Linked DNA regions of Homo sapiens. The protein of the gene in region 1 purifies or fractionates together with the protein of each later gene. This does not show direct contact. Each region holds a gene or a part of one and is shown in the gene's direction. Other genes may lie near its edges.

Region 1 (6,942 bases):
CCTATCCCGCTGCTTCCACCAGGGCTAGACCCGTCAGCCCTGGTCCAGGCCATGCAACAGCCTCCTCACTAGGGCTTTGACCTTTGACCTTAACTTTTTTTTTTTTTTTTTCTGGAGTCAGGGTCTCACTCTGTTGCACAGGCTGAAGTTCAGTGGCTCACTGCAGCCTCCATCTTCCCACCCTAAGTGATCCTCCCACCTCAGCCTGGCTGAGATGGGAAGATTGCTAGCTACCAGCACACACCACCATGCCTAGCTAATTAGAAATTTTTTTTTTGTAGAGACAGGGTCTTGCTCTGTTGCCCAGGCTGGTCTCAAACTCCTGGCCTCAAGTGATCCTCTTGCCTCAGCTTCCCAAAGTGCTGGGATCACAGGCGAGAGCCACAGGGCCCAGCCGACCTTCACTCTTTATCATATCACTACCCTGCTTATAAACATCTTTCAATGGCTCCCCATTGCTCATATGATAAAACCTAAACTCCTGTAATAAAAATCTCTGGCCCACAACACCCTATAGAATCTGTCCCTTCCTCAAACACCACTCTCCCCTGCTTGCCGGTCTCATCACCTTGGCCTTCTGGCTGTCCCTTGAGCCACTGAGGCTTTCTGTGCCTCAGGGTCTTTCACTATCTTCCTCCCCACCTGCAATACCCTCCCCCACTCCTCCAACACTGGCCTGGGGCGTGGTGGCTATCGCCCGTAATCCCAGCACTTTGGGAGGCCAAGGTGGGTGGATTATTTGAGGTCAGGAGTTTGAGCCCAGCCTGGCCAACATGGTGAAAACCATCGCTACTAAAAACACAAAAATTAGCTGAACATGGTGGCACACACCTATAGTACCAGCTACGTGGGAGGCTGAGACAGAAGAATGGTTGAATGCCAGAGCGGGAGGTTGTGGTGAGCCGAGATCATGCCACTGCACTCCAGCCTGGGCAACAGAACAAGACTCCGTCTCAAAACAAACAAACAAAAAACAAAACAAAACAAAACAAAAACTTACTAAGACAGTTGTAGATAAAGGCAGATTTATTAGAAAAAGTAGGAAAATACATTGCAAGAAGGCAGAAGAGAAGCTGACTGCCAGGAAACAAAAGGTTGTTGGAGATTTTATAGAATTAGTGTTATGCTATCTGTTGAGGAGGTTTTTGTGCAGTATCAAACGCCAAGGGTACAGTGAGCTAACTTGCCAAGGGTACAGTGAGCTAACTTGCAGGAGTCTGGTGATAGTCGGGCACAGGAAGATTGTGAATTATTTGCACAGGAGAGCTATATGTCCTAGACATGAAGAAAGGCAGACTCACAGCTTATCTAATTTCTCTTTTTGCTTTCCCTTGCTCCCACCGACCAGATTCCCTTTCCCTAATTAGCACTTCCCACCTAGCACTTAGTAGGTGCTCAATAAGCATTTGTTTTTTTGTTTTGTTTTGTTTTGTTTTGTTTTTTTGAGACAGAGTCTCGCTCTATTGCCCAAGCTGGAGTGCCGTGGCGTGATCTCGGCTCACTGCAAGCTCCGCCTCCTGGGTTCACACCATTCTTCTGCTTCAGCCTCCCCAGTAGCTGGGACTACAGGCACCCGCCACCACGCCCAGCTAATTTTTTGTATTTTTAGTAGAGACAGGGTTTCACCATGTTAGCCAGGATGGTCTCGATCTCCTGACCTTGTGATCTGCCTGCTTCGGCCTCCCAAAGTGCTGGGATTATAGGTGTGAGCCACGGCGCCCAGCCCAATAATTCCACCAGAGGACAGGTCTGTGGGAGTGGGGCCCTTTATCGATTTGTTTATGGTTTTATCCCCAGTGCCTGGAGTACAGGAAGATTAAAAAATTTATTTCACTTTGCTGAGAAGAGGTGGAGCCAGGATTCAAATGCTGGTCTATTTGACTCCAAAGTTCACAGCTGGGCCACAGCACACCCAGGGGAAAAAGTCAAGTGCATTTGGGGATAAAGAAAGGTTGGTGACAAAACTGGAACAGGGATTAGAGTATTTTCCCCAAATCCCCAGTCTTTTCTTTCCCATTCTGCTAGCTGATTCAGCCAGGGGAGGGGAGATGTCAATTTCTCCCTCCCAGAAGGCTTTGCAGAGCTGCTGAAGTGCTTTCTTGTAGGCTGAGAGGCGGCCCCCCATCCGGCCCCATATTATCATTCCATCTTGACCTCAGAGGAAAGAAAGGGAAACCAGCTCTGCTGAGCACCCTTTCCACTCCCTCACCCCCAGGCCGTTATCTTGCTGAATCTGCACTATCTATCATGAGAGAAGTATATTTTGAGCCTGATCTTACAAAAGAGGAAACAGCTCAGAGACCTTAGGTAACTAGCCCTAAGTCACACAGCTAGTAAGTGGACGGGTTGAAATTTAACTTGGAGACTTGAACCCCAAATTCATCTTTTTTCTGTTACACCACACCTATCTCTGAAACTTACTGGCTGTCTCCTCAAAGGACATCCCTCTCCAAAGGGCTGGCTCCAGCTGGGAAACCGGCCTAAGGGTGCCCTGGGTCAGAGGGCCGACCTGTGGTTTTGGGGGCAACTCCTCCTGGCATCCGAGGCTCTTTAAAACAATCTGCAGCCACACTGTCTCCCAGCTCCGTCTCCCACAGGGCTGTTTGCCCTCTTCTCGCTCCCTCGGGCCTCTTCATGCTTATTTTGTGTTCCAAGACTTTGTCAGCATGCCCCACTTCCTCCCCCCCAACCCCAAGAGTGCCTCTTCCCTCTGTCCACCCAAGCCTGACCCTTGCTTCAGGGTCTAGTCCCTAGAAAGTCCCCCACCTTTACCTCCTCCCTACGCTGGAGTCTCTGGTCTCGCCCTCATCACTGTATCCCCATTCTGTTCCCCGGTCTCACCCTCATCACTGCATCCCCATTCTGTTCCCCCGCCACCCTGCACTCTCCCACCCCTGTCATGCCTGAGCACGCTGTCCTCTCCTGTGGCTCAGAGCAGGTCATCTCCCTGCTTTTCGTTAACAGTGATGTAACAGCCCTTGCTTAACGGAGGGCTCCTCACGTGCCAGCTACTGCATACTAAGCACTTTAAACGTATTAACTCATTTCCTCCCCTCCCCACAAAAACTTAAGAAGTCGGTGCCATTATATATCACCTATTTTACCAAATGGGGAAACTAAAGCACAGAGAGGTTAAGTAACTTGCCCAAGGTCACAGAGCTGCTGACAACTTCTTTATTGCCTCCAGGCTGAACATAAACTCCAAGAAAGTCCCATGAGGCTCTTTGGATCTCTTTTGCCCCTGTTGTTTGCAGGAACCCATCTCCCACCACTCTCCCCCACCCACACTGCAAGCGGCAGCCGCCTGAGCTATATTTAGATCCCAGAAGCCACCAAGCTCCCTCCGCACTCCCCGCCCTTGTGCATGCTGTTCCCTCTGCCTGGTCCCGGCTCTGTGAGGTGTGAGGTCTCCCCGTTAGCCCTAGTTTTCTTTCTGCCTCCTGGGAACCGTGTCCACCACCTCTCCACTTTGATCAATTATTTCCTTGCCGTTGTCTGTCGGCCTGTCAGCCTACCCCCACCCGACCGAGAACGCCTTGACGGTAGTGAAATGGTCTTGCCAATAGACTCCAGAGCAGGCTCCGCCACGATGTCAGCGCCAGGAAATGTTGGTGAATGAATGAATGAAGGCTTTCTGCTGCGAATCAGGCCCACTCTCCACAAACAGACCTGAGGAGAGGGGCCCAGGCCCGGCCCCCAGCGCTTCTGCAGCGGGAAAGCTGCGTCCAGAGAAGGCTGGGAGGTTGCTCCCAGGCCGGCTGAGGAGAGACCCTCGGAGCCTTCAACGCAGCCAGGCGGCAAGTGGGGGCAGGGCGTGGGCGCGGACACACCCCCCGCAGTGCCCCCGGCGCCCGGCAGGGGGCGCCGCCCCGCCGGCCCACGCCCCGCCGCGCGCCGGGCAGGCCCCCTCGCGCAGGCGCGCTGCCGCGGGCGGAGGATCCGGGCCGCGCTTCCTCTCGCCAGGCCTGCGAGCTTCCTCCCAGCGGAGCCCTGGGCGAGCCGAGGTTGGCCGCCGCCGCCGCCGAGCCCGCTGCCGCCCTCCCGCTCCTGCCCCACCCGCGCCTTGCCCGGGGGCTTCTGCCGGGGTGGGGTCCGAGCCGGGCGACCGCCCGGCTGCGCCGCCGTCGGGGCCGTAACCCGGCCCGCCGTCCCTCCCGCCCCAGCCAGCCTCTGGCCGCCGGAGCCCGCGGGGCGTGGAGCGCGAGGAGCCCCGCGGCCCCGATCGAGCGTCCGGGGCGGCCCCCGGCAGCCAGCGCGACGTTCCAAAATCGAACCTCAGTGGCGGCGCTCGGAAGCGGAACTCTGCCGGGGCCGCGCCGGCTACATTGTTTCCTCCCCCCGACTCCCTCCCGCCCCCTTCCCCCGCCTTTCTTCCCTCCGCGACCCGGGCCGTGCGTCCGTCCCCCTGCCTCTGCCTGGCGGTCCCTCCTCCCCTCTCCTTGCACCCATACCTCTTTGTACCGCACCCCCTGGGGACCCCTGCGCCCCTCCCCTCCCCCCTGACCGCATGGACCGTCCCGCAGGCCGCTGATGCCGCCCGCGGCGAGGTGGCCCGGACCGCAGTGCCCCAAGAGAGGTGAGTGCCTGGCCGTCCCGGAGTGTCCCCTGGAGGGAAGAGGGTGGAGGTCGCGCGTCTAGTCTCTGTTGCTGCCACTGTCGCGTCCACTCCCATTCCCCTCTTCTCCCACTTCTCCCTTCTCTCCTTTACTCCCTTGCACGGGTTCGAATTCTCCCAGGAGCCACTGTCAGAACCCAAATTGGAAGGGAGTGCATGAGGGAGGTACTGCCCTGCAGCTCCACGGACTCGTCTTCTCGGGTCATCCCGAGTCCCCCCCTCTGTGGAGCTCAGAGTAGGAGGTGGCTGGAGTCTGGAGGAAGAGGATCCGTATGGGCCAGGTCCCTAGAGAGAGTGCTGGACTCCCCTGCCCTTCCCTGTACAGGGCCTCCCCGCAGGTGCCCTGGCTTGCTTGGTTCTGACCCCTCCCTCATTACCCCACCATGACCCTGCGGGCTGCAAGCAAGCCCAGGGCCCAGCCACCTCGGGTGAGCAGTTAGAAGCCCAGGTCCTAGGACTGAGCCTGTCACCCTTGGCCTCTCAGAAGACCAGGCCTAAGCCAAGGGATCTTTGGGTGGGAAACTGGGCAGGCCTTCTGCCCGGGGGGAGGTAACGGAGCATTAGCACCATGCCCCCACCTTCTGGCACCCTGGGCAGCCCATTCTCCTAGGCTCTTTGTGGCCCAGACCAGGTGTCAGGAAGGGGTGTGTCCAGCCAGCAGATTTTTTGGAGCTTAACTACCAGTTCACTTCCCCGCCCATTTTGTACACCCGGGAACCGAGGCTCAAAGGGAGAAGTTGCTACCCCAGGCCTCTAGTGGAGTTAGGCTGGCTGTCCTTTCATCCCCAGCTATACAGGGCTGGATGGCTGTGGGTGGAAGGAAACCAGGCAGGCACCTTCACCCACTGGGGACACAGGCCCCCAGCCCGGCCCCAGAGGGACCTTGTTGGTTGAGCACGTGCTTCCCTGCAGAGGGCTGGAGGGAGTGAAAGGGCTTCCGGCTCCAGCTGTGGCTGGGTCAGCTAGCAGGAGATGTGGGGAATGTGTGGTGTATGGCCATCTGTGTGGTGTGGCAGGAAGGTCCGGTCCTGGCCCCGGCTCTGAGTTGAAACAACCTGGTGGTCAGTCCTGACCCAGCACTCGCCACACCTATGGCCCAGCTGGCACAGGAGCAGCCAAGTTCAGGATATAAATGGGGTCACATGGGAACCGTGGAAGCTCTGTCTCCACTGGCAGCAGGCTACAGACTGGGGACATGGGAGCATTGTGAGAGTGGGGACACCCAGGGGGCCTGTTTCAAGCTCCTAGTACCCTGGCGGTTCCAGTGTCTTTCTTGGTTGTGGCCACAGCAGGAACAGGGCAAGGACAGCAGGGGTGAGGTTGAGGCCTGGCAGGATCCTCTGGCCCAGGAGAGCAGGCATTGCCCTGGTGGGTGCTGAGCAGTGTCTGGGCTCCCTTGGAGCTGCTGGCAGTTTTGTCCTGCTGGGTCCCTGCTCACGATTTAGGGTTTTTTTGTTTTTTCACTTTTTTTTCTGGCTGTCCTGACATGCACAGTGGAGGGGACCCAGATGTCCTGGGCCTGTGAGACTCCCCTCACATGGCCCCACACCCAGCCCTAACTTCCTTTCCAGCCTGAGGGACTGGGGCTGGAGCCTGACATGGTTAGCTCCCTCCCACCCCAGTCAGCCTTTTTAATTTTTATTTTATTTTATTTTATTTTTTTACCAACTGTGAGCTGTGAAGGTGTGATCCAGGGTCCCAGGGCCTTTGAAGAAAGGAGTCTGGCTTCTGGCTGGCACGTGTGCAGGGATGTGCTTTTCATTGGTGAGCTTGGTGCCCTCCACCCTCTCAGAAGCAGCTGCTCTTCTCTCTGCATTGGGTCAGGGGCAAGGAAAAAGCAGAAAATGTTCCCATTCACCACCGCAGGGGGGCCAGACCCCAAAAGGCTGAGCCACACAGAGTGGCCCTCGGCAAGGGTTGGAAATTTCGGGGACAGAATGCAGCTTCCTCCAAACAAGTATAGGTAGGGGTTGAGACCCAGGATCCACAGTGTGACATGGCTGCCCCCCAAAGGGGGCAGACCCACCTGGGTGCGGTTCTGGGCTCCATCTTTTGAAGGATTTTAAAACCTTGACAGGTCATCTTCAAAGAGCCAGGGATGTTGACTGAGTCTGGGAAAGAGAAAGTAGGGACAGATTCTCATATGTCTGAGGGACTGTCCCAAATGAGAAAGGCATCCCATGGCAGAAATTGTCCCAGACACGTGGGCCAGAGCTAGGGAGCAGGTGGGTCCCAGGGAAGTGAATCTGAGCTCATTATAGGGAAACCATGAATGTACTCATTTTCTTGATTTAGAAAATAACAAAACAGCGCTACAGGAAATTTAG
Region 2 (7,045 bases), on another chromosome or scaffold:
CTGGCTTGGGGGAGCTGTGTGCCCAGGGGCGGGGTCTCCCGGTGAAAGAAGCCAGTGTCCATCCCTGGCCATGGCCTGCCTGCTTGGCTCTATATATAACTCCTGCCCTACAGCTGGATGAATGGGGGTCTGTGTGGGCTGGGGGCTGAGCGCCAAGAGCAACAAGTGGGGGGCCTGGGGGGTGGGGGACCAAGAGGCCAGAGGGGAGGTGCCCTTAAATAGCGCAACCTCAGCTGGAGCCTGTGCCCATCCACTGAAGGCCCCTCCACCTTCCTCCTGAAGCTGAGGGGCTGCCCCATCCTCAAGCCCACGAGAGCCCTTCACCAGGAGCTCAGTTCCTTACTCGGTCCCCTTCCAGGTGACTTCAGCCTGTCAGGCCTTGCCTCCCGTGGAGTTGGTGAGTGCGCTCTGGGATGGGGTGGGGAGGGCAAGGAACCTGGCCATGGTGTCCAGAGGTCTGGTGGCTCCAGAGAGGGCCCCCAGGAGATGACCTTGAACGGAGTGCTGTGGGTATTGCTCATCCTATGAGGAAAGAAAAAACTGTCTGAGTCCTCTGCTGATCTTGTGCCCTTGGGCCTGCTGGGGGTAGGACTCCTCTCCCCTTATCCAGTACAGCCTTCAAAAGGACACTGACATTCCCTTCCCCTGTCCCCAAGGCCCACATTGGTCCTTGCCCCTGCTGTAACTAACCACTCCCTTTTCCTCCCCCATCTCCCTCTAGCGGCGAAACACGGCCCCAGTCAGGCGCATAGAGCACCTGGTAAGGTGATGCTGGAGCAGGAGGGGGAAGCAGGTAGCTTTGGGAGTAAGGATCTAGATTTCCTGAAGACAAAAAGGGCATGGCTCTGGAGTGGGCAGTCTAGAGTAGGGGGTACCCAAAGAGATGTCTAGACACTGTCTGTTAACCACCAGGGATCCACCAAATCTCTGAACCACTCAAAGCAGCGCAGCACTCTGCCCAGGTAAGTGAGGGTGCTGGGGTGGTCCCACGTGACCCCCTTTCCGCCGGCCCCACACCTCAGCCCAGGGCACTGCCCCGCAACAGAGCTCCCCGGGACAGCCCCCCACCCCCAAAGCGGTATTCTCCCTCCAGACCGATCCACCCACCCTCAGGACCCAGCAGGCTTCACCTGCTGCCCAACAGACAGCCTTCCCGTCACACTAGCCACCTCCGGGTGCCCCGCCCCTGCGTTCATGCGTAGGCTCCTCCTCCCCAGGAGCTTCAGCCTGGACCCGCTCATGGAGCGGCGCTGGGACTTAGACCTCACCTACGTGACGGAGCGCATCTTGGCCGCCGCCTTCCCCGCGCGGCCCGATGAACAGCGGCACCGGGGCCACCTGCGCGAGCTGGCCCATGTGCTGCAATCCAAGCACCGGGACAAGTACCTGGTGAGGGGCGGGGCCATCAGGAGTCCGCCAATGAGAGGGATGTAGGGTCCAGATGGGCGAGGCTAATCACTGACGTCACCAGCGGAGGCGAGGCCGCCAGGGGGCGGGACCAGAGTGGTGGGGTGGGGGCGGGGCCCGGAGCGCGGCCTGGAGCGGAGCGGAGAATCCTGGAACGCTGGCGACTTGGCTGTGACTGGCTAGGCCGGGCCTTAGCTACCTTTTTATTTTCTTTATTTATTTACCTTTTTTTTGAGACGGGGTCTCACTTTGTTGCCCAGGCTGGAGTGCAGTGGCACGATCTCACCTCACTGCAACCTCCTCCACCCGGGCTCAAGCGATTCTCCCACCTCAGCCTCAGTAGCTAGGATTACAGGCGTGCGTCACTCACGCCCAGCCAATTTTTTTTTTTTTTTTTTTTTTTTTTTGTATTTTTTGTAGAGACGGGGTTTCGCCATGTTGGCCAGGCTGGTCTCAAGACTCCAGGGCTCAAGCGATCCACACCCGGCAAATTGTTGTAATTTTAGTAGAGATGAGGTTTCACCATGTTGGCCAGGCTGGTCTCGAACTCCTGACCTCAGGTGACCCGCCCGCCTTGGTCTCCCAAAGTGCTGGGGTTATAGGCGTGAGTTACTGCGACCGGCCTGCACCTTATTTTAGAGGAAGATTCTTACTTAGGATCCACCTCCACCTCGTGCCTCATTGCCGGAGATCATTTCTGTCTAAAGCCCTCCCCCTTTATTTCAGCTCTTCAACCTTTCAGAGAAAAGGCATGACCTGACCCGCTTAAACCCCAAGGTATGAAGGAAATGGCCTGCCCAACCATTAAACCAAGCCACCCCAACCCCAGAAGCCCCCAGCTTCCTCGTTATTAATAGTAGCAATTGGCATCTACTTCACTCTTAAGCACTTTCCCACTCTCCCATGATATATTACTGGAGACACCCCAAAACGTGATGCAGCAGGTATCAGCCCATTGTATGGATAAGGAAAGTGCCGAGGCTATCATGGACAACCAGCAGACCCCCAGCCTTGCCCCCGGACCCCTATGCCCTGTCCCCTTTCCACCCTGCCCATCTCTCTCTGTTGGTGGCCCCCGGCCCCAGTTGCACCCCTGCATTCTCCCCAGGTTCAAGACTTCGGCTGGCCTGAGCTGCATGCTCCACCCCTGGACAAGCTGTGCTCCATCTGCAAAGCCATGGAGACATGGCTCAGTGCTGACCCACAGCACGTGGTCGTACTATACTGCAAGGTGGGCCAGGACCTCGGGTTCCCTGGTGCCTGGAGGTTCCAGGTCAGCCTGGAGCTCCCAGACCCTCATCCCTGTCTCTCTGTCTGTCAGGGAAACAAGGGCAAGCTTGGGGTCATCGTTTCTGCCTACATGCACTACAGCAAGATCTCTGCAGGGTGAGGCTCCCAGCGCCTGAGTAGCTGCTTCCCCAGTGGCCCTTTCTCCAGCTGGCCCCTTAGGAACCCATCTCCCCTGGAGCCCACCTCTTCGTTGAGAGTCCTTTGCTGTCAGCTTAGCACTTCCACCTCCCTTTTATCACTAGTACTGCAACATAGTCTGCAGCAGATGGTCTGTAGAGTTTCCTGGGGCAGCCACAAACAGGGTGGTGTAAAACAGTGGAAATGGGCCGGGTGCGTTGGCTCACGCCTGTAATACCAGCACTTTGGGAGGCTGAGGTGGGCAGGTCACCTGAGGTCAGGAGTTTGAAACTAGCCTGGCCAGGTGAAACCCCATCTCTACCAAAAATATAAAAATATAAAAATTAGCCGGGCGTGGTGGTGGGCGCCTGTAATCCCAGCTACTCAGGAGGCTGAGGCAGGAGAATTGCTTGAACCCAGGAGACGGAGGTTGCAGTGAGCCCACACGGTGCCACTGTACTCCAGCCTGGGTGACAGAGTCAGACTCCGTCTCAAAAAAAACAAAAACAAAACAAAACAAAAAACAGTGGAAATGTACTCTCTCACAGTTCTGGAGGCCAGAAGCCCCAAACCAAGCTGTCAGCAGGCCCTTGCTCCATCTGAGACTCGGGATGGAATCCTTCCTTGTCTCTTTCTAGCTTCCAGTGGTGGGCGGCAAGCCTTGGCATTCCTTGGTTTGCAGACACATCACTGTAATCGCTGCCTCTGTCATCACATGGTGTTCTCCCTGTGTGTCTCTGTCTGTGTCTCTTCCTCTCTTCTTATAAGGACACCAATCATATTGGATTCAGGGTCCACCCTCCTTCAGTATGGTCTCATCTTAACTAATTATGTCTGCAACGGCCCTATTTCCAAATAAGGTCACATTCTGAGGTACATGTCTTTTGGGGGGATATAATTCAACCCATAAGATGGTTTTGTTGCCCTGTTTTACAGATGAAAAAACTAAAGTTCAGGGAACAATTGCCTGAGGCCCAACAACTAGTAAAGTGACTGTACATGGTGCTTCTCATTCTCATTACCACTACTCTGGGCTTCTTCTAGACTTAGAGAATCATATTTCTCCTCCATCCCCTGGGGCTTAGGGATGGGAGGCCAGGATGAAGATTAATCCCTAATCCCCAACACTGGCCTTGCTATCCCCAGGGCGGACCAGGCACTGGCCACTCTTACCATGCGGAAATTCTGCGAGGACAAGGTGGCCACAGAACTGCAGCCCTCCCAGCGTCGGTGAGCAGCCTGGGTGGGGATGGGCCAGAGGAGCAGCTCCCTTCATGGCTACCAAGGCCAAGACTCTCTTATTCATGCAGCACACTTTCACTGAGTGTGCCAAGCGCCGTGCCAGGTGCTGAGAATTCAAAGTGGACAAAGCCCCTGCTCTCATGGAGCTTTCATGCTAGTAGGGTGGAAGGCAGTAGACCTGGGAATAAATAGACGAGGAGATCAGTCATAAAGAGAACCTGAAGGACAGTCAGGGCCTGCCACTATAAAGTGAAGCAGAGCTCTGGGGAAAGAGCTTTGAGGCAGAGGGGAGCAGGAGGGATTGAGGTTAGATGCAAGGAAGAACTTTCTGGTGACCCGGAAGATGGGAAGGAAGTGTTGAGCAGAAGAGCGAGCCTTCTAAGGGTGGATGGTTGAAATGATACAAGGTGACCTCCAGAGGAAAAGGCTTATGTTCTCCTTGACACGCCCTCCACCAGATATATCAGCTACTTCAGTGGGCTGCTATCTGGCTCCATCAGAATGAACAGCAGCCCTCTCTTCCTGCACTATGTGCTCATCCCCATGCTGCCAGCCTTTGAACCTGGCACAGGTGAGTCTGCCTGAGATGTGCTCCCTAGGGAGAACCACCTTCAGGCCCTCTCCACTCAGCACCCCTCCTGTGCCTTCTCCTCTGCCCCTCCAGGCTTCCAGCCCTTCCTTAAAATCTACCAGTCCATGCAGCTTGTCTACACATCTGGAGTCTAGTGAGTGCTCTATTCCCAGGCCCCTGACACTTCATGACCAGGGCCCCTCTTGCTCCTGCATTCCTGCTTCTCCAGCCTCCCTAGACACCTGGGCAGGGCTCAGACTCTGGTCTCCTGGCTCCCCCTGACTGCATAGCTGCCTCTGCACGCAGGAGCTTCTGGTTCATCTCTGCCTTCTCCTCTCTCCCCACAGTCACATTGCAGGCCCTGGTCCCCAGCAGCTTTGCATCAGCCTGGAGCCAGCCCTCCTCCTCAAAGGCGATGTCATGGTGAGGGGGGTCCTGTCAACAAGAAGAATCCTGGAGATGGGGCAGGGGTTGGTGGTGTAACGGCACAGTCACCAATTTGAGACAGATTGGAGAGCGAGTAGGGAGATCACCTTGAGATCGAGGCAGGGCAGAAGCTGTGACCAGGCAGTCCCCAGGGTGGAAGCGCAGAAGAGGACATGAGGCCTGATCCGCAGCCTCCTGCCTTTCTCCCAGGTAACATGTTATCACAAGGGTGGCCGGGGCACAGACCGGACCCTCGTGTTCCGAGTCCAGTTCCACACCTGCACCATCCACGGACCACAGCTCACTTTCCCCAAGGACCAGCTTGACGAGGCCTGGACTGGTGAGTCTGAGACAAGTGGCCTGGGGCTGGAGTCCAGGTGGCAGGCAGGTGGCAGGCAGGTGGCAGGCAGGCAGGAGAGTGTGGTATGGGCCAGGGGCCTGGTTCTTCACTGTCCACTCCCCATAGATGAGAGGTTCCCCTTCCAAGCCTCCGTGGAGTTTGTCTTCTCCTCCAGCCCCGAGAAGATCAAAGGTAAGAGCAGGGACATGGGCTGGGGACTGAGGGCCGCCTCTCCCCTGCTCCCCAATACCCGAGTGGCCTTCCACAGGCAGCACTCCACGGAACGACCCCTCGGTCTCTGTCGACTACAACACCACTGAGCCAGCCGTGCGCTGGGACTCCTATGAGAACTTCAACCAGCACCACGAGGACAGTGTGGATGGTGCGCAGGCAGCCTGCAGGGTGGGAGGTACAGGGTTGTGGCGGGACCCTGGGGGGTGGTGCCAGGGAGAAGCACACTCCCTCCTCCCCAGGCAGAGCCCACTCCCGAGAGACACCCCCGGCCCGACAGCTGTCTCCAGTGCCATCCCCTCTCATGAATTTTCTCTCTCCCTCCCTGTTCCCCGCTTGCCCTCCCTCCCTGATCCTCTTCCCCACTCAGGCTCCTTGACCCACACCCGGGGTCCCCTGGATGGCAGTCCTTATGCCCAGGTGCAGCGGCCTCCCCGGCAGACCCCCCCGGCACCCTCTCCAGAGCCTCCACCACCCCCCATGCTCTCTGTCAGCAGCGACTCAGGCCATTCCTCCACGCTGACCACAGAGCCGGCTGCTGAGTCCCCTGGCCGGCCGCCCCCTACAGCTGCTGAACGGCAGGAGCTGGATCGCCTCCTAGGAGGCTGCGGAGTGGCCAGTGGGGGCCGGGGAGCTGGGCGCGAGACGGCCATCCTAGATGACGAAGAGCAGCCCACTGTGGGCGGAGGCCCCCACCTCGGAGTGTATCCAGGCCATAGGCCTGGCCTCAGCCGCCACTGCTCCTGCCGCCAGGGCTACCGGGAGCCCTGCGGGGTTCCCAATGGGGGCTACTACCGGCCAGAGGGAACCCTGGAGAGGAGGCGACTGGCCTACGGGGGCTATGAGGGATCCCCCCAGGGCTACGCCGAGGCCTCGATGGAGAAGAGGCGCCTCTGCCGATCGCTGTCAGAGGGGCTATACCCCTACCCACCTGAGATGGGGAAACCAGCCACTGGGGACTTTGGCTACCGCGCCCCAGGCTACCGGGAGGTGGTCATCCTGGAGGACCCTGGGCTGCCTGCCCTATACCCATGCCCAGCCTGCGAGGAGAAGCTGGCGCTGCCTACAGCAGCCTTGTATGGACTGCGGCTGGAGAGGGAGGCTGGAGAAGGGTGGGCAAGTGAGGCTGGCAAGCCTCTCCTGCACCCAGTGCGGCCTGGGCACCCGCTGCCTCTGCTCTTGCCTGCCTGTGGGCATCACCATGCCCCGATGCCTGACTACAGCTGCCTGAAGCCACCCAAGGCAGGCGAGGAAGGGCACGAGGGCTGCTCCTACACCATGTGCCCCGAAGGCAGGTATGGGCATCCAGGGTACCCTGCCCTGGTGACATACAGCTATGGAGGAGCAGTTCCCAGTTACTGCCCAGCATATGGCCGTGTGCCTCATAGCTGTGGCTCTCCAGGAGAGGGCAGAGGGTATCC

What was found. Proteins that work in one complex are often made in the same cells at the same time.
Region 2: the proteins of CSK (region 1) and TNS2 purify together in Homo sapiens (affinity purification with mass spectrometry; 6 studies listed by BioGRID and IntAct, with this or other methods). This does not show direct contact.

Annotation. Positions count from the first base shown.
Region 1 is NC_000015.10:74,778,145-74,785,086, forward strand, and holds the start of CSK (tyrosine-protein kinase CSK), read left to right. Parts: upstream 1-3,935; 5' UTR 3,936-4,576; intron 4,577-6,290; exon of another isoform or gene 6,291-6,379; intron 6,380-6,942. UniProt on the Homo sapiens protein: Non-receptor tyrosine-protein kinase that plays an important role in the regulation of cell growth, differentiation, migration and immune response.
Region 2 is NC_000012.12:53,053,053-53,060,097, forward strand, and holds part of TNS2 (tensin-2), read left to right. Parts: intron 1-343; exon of another isoform or gene 344-358; coding exon 359-397; exon of another isoform or gene 398-522; intron 523-721; coding exon 722-760; intron 761-912; coding exon 913-962; intron 963-1,217; coding exon 1,218-1,389; intron 1,390-2,133; coding exon 2,134-2,184; intron 2,185-2,515; coding exon 2,516-2,638; intron 2,639-2,728; coding exon 2,729-2,793; intron 2,794-3,891; exon of another isoform or gene 3,892-3,960; coding exon 3,961-4,044; intron 4,045-4,514; coding exon 4,515-4,627; intron 4,628-4,720; coding exon 4,721-4,781; intron 4,782-4,974; coding exon 4,975-5,050; intron 5,051-5,263; coding exon 5,264-5,393; intron 5,394-5,519; coding exon 5,520-5,585; intron 5,586-5,661; coding exon 5,662-5,775; coding exon of another isoform or gene 5,776-5,802; intron 5,803-5,994; coding exon 5,995-7,045. UniProt on the Homo sapiens protein: Tyrosine-protein phosphatase which regulates cell motility, proliferation and muscle-response to insulin. Phosphatase activity is mediated by binding to phosphatidylinositol-3,4,5-triphosphate (PtdIns(3,4,5)P3) via the SH2 domain.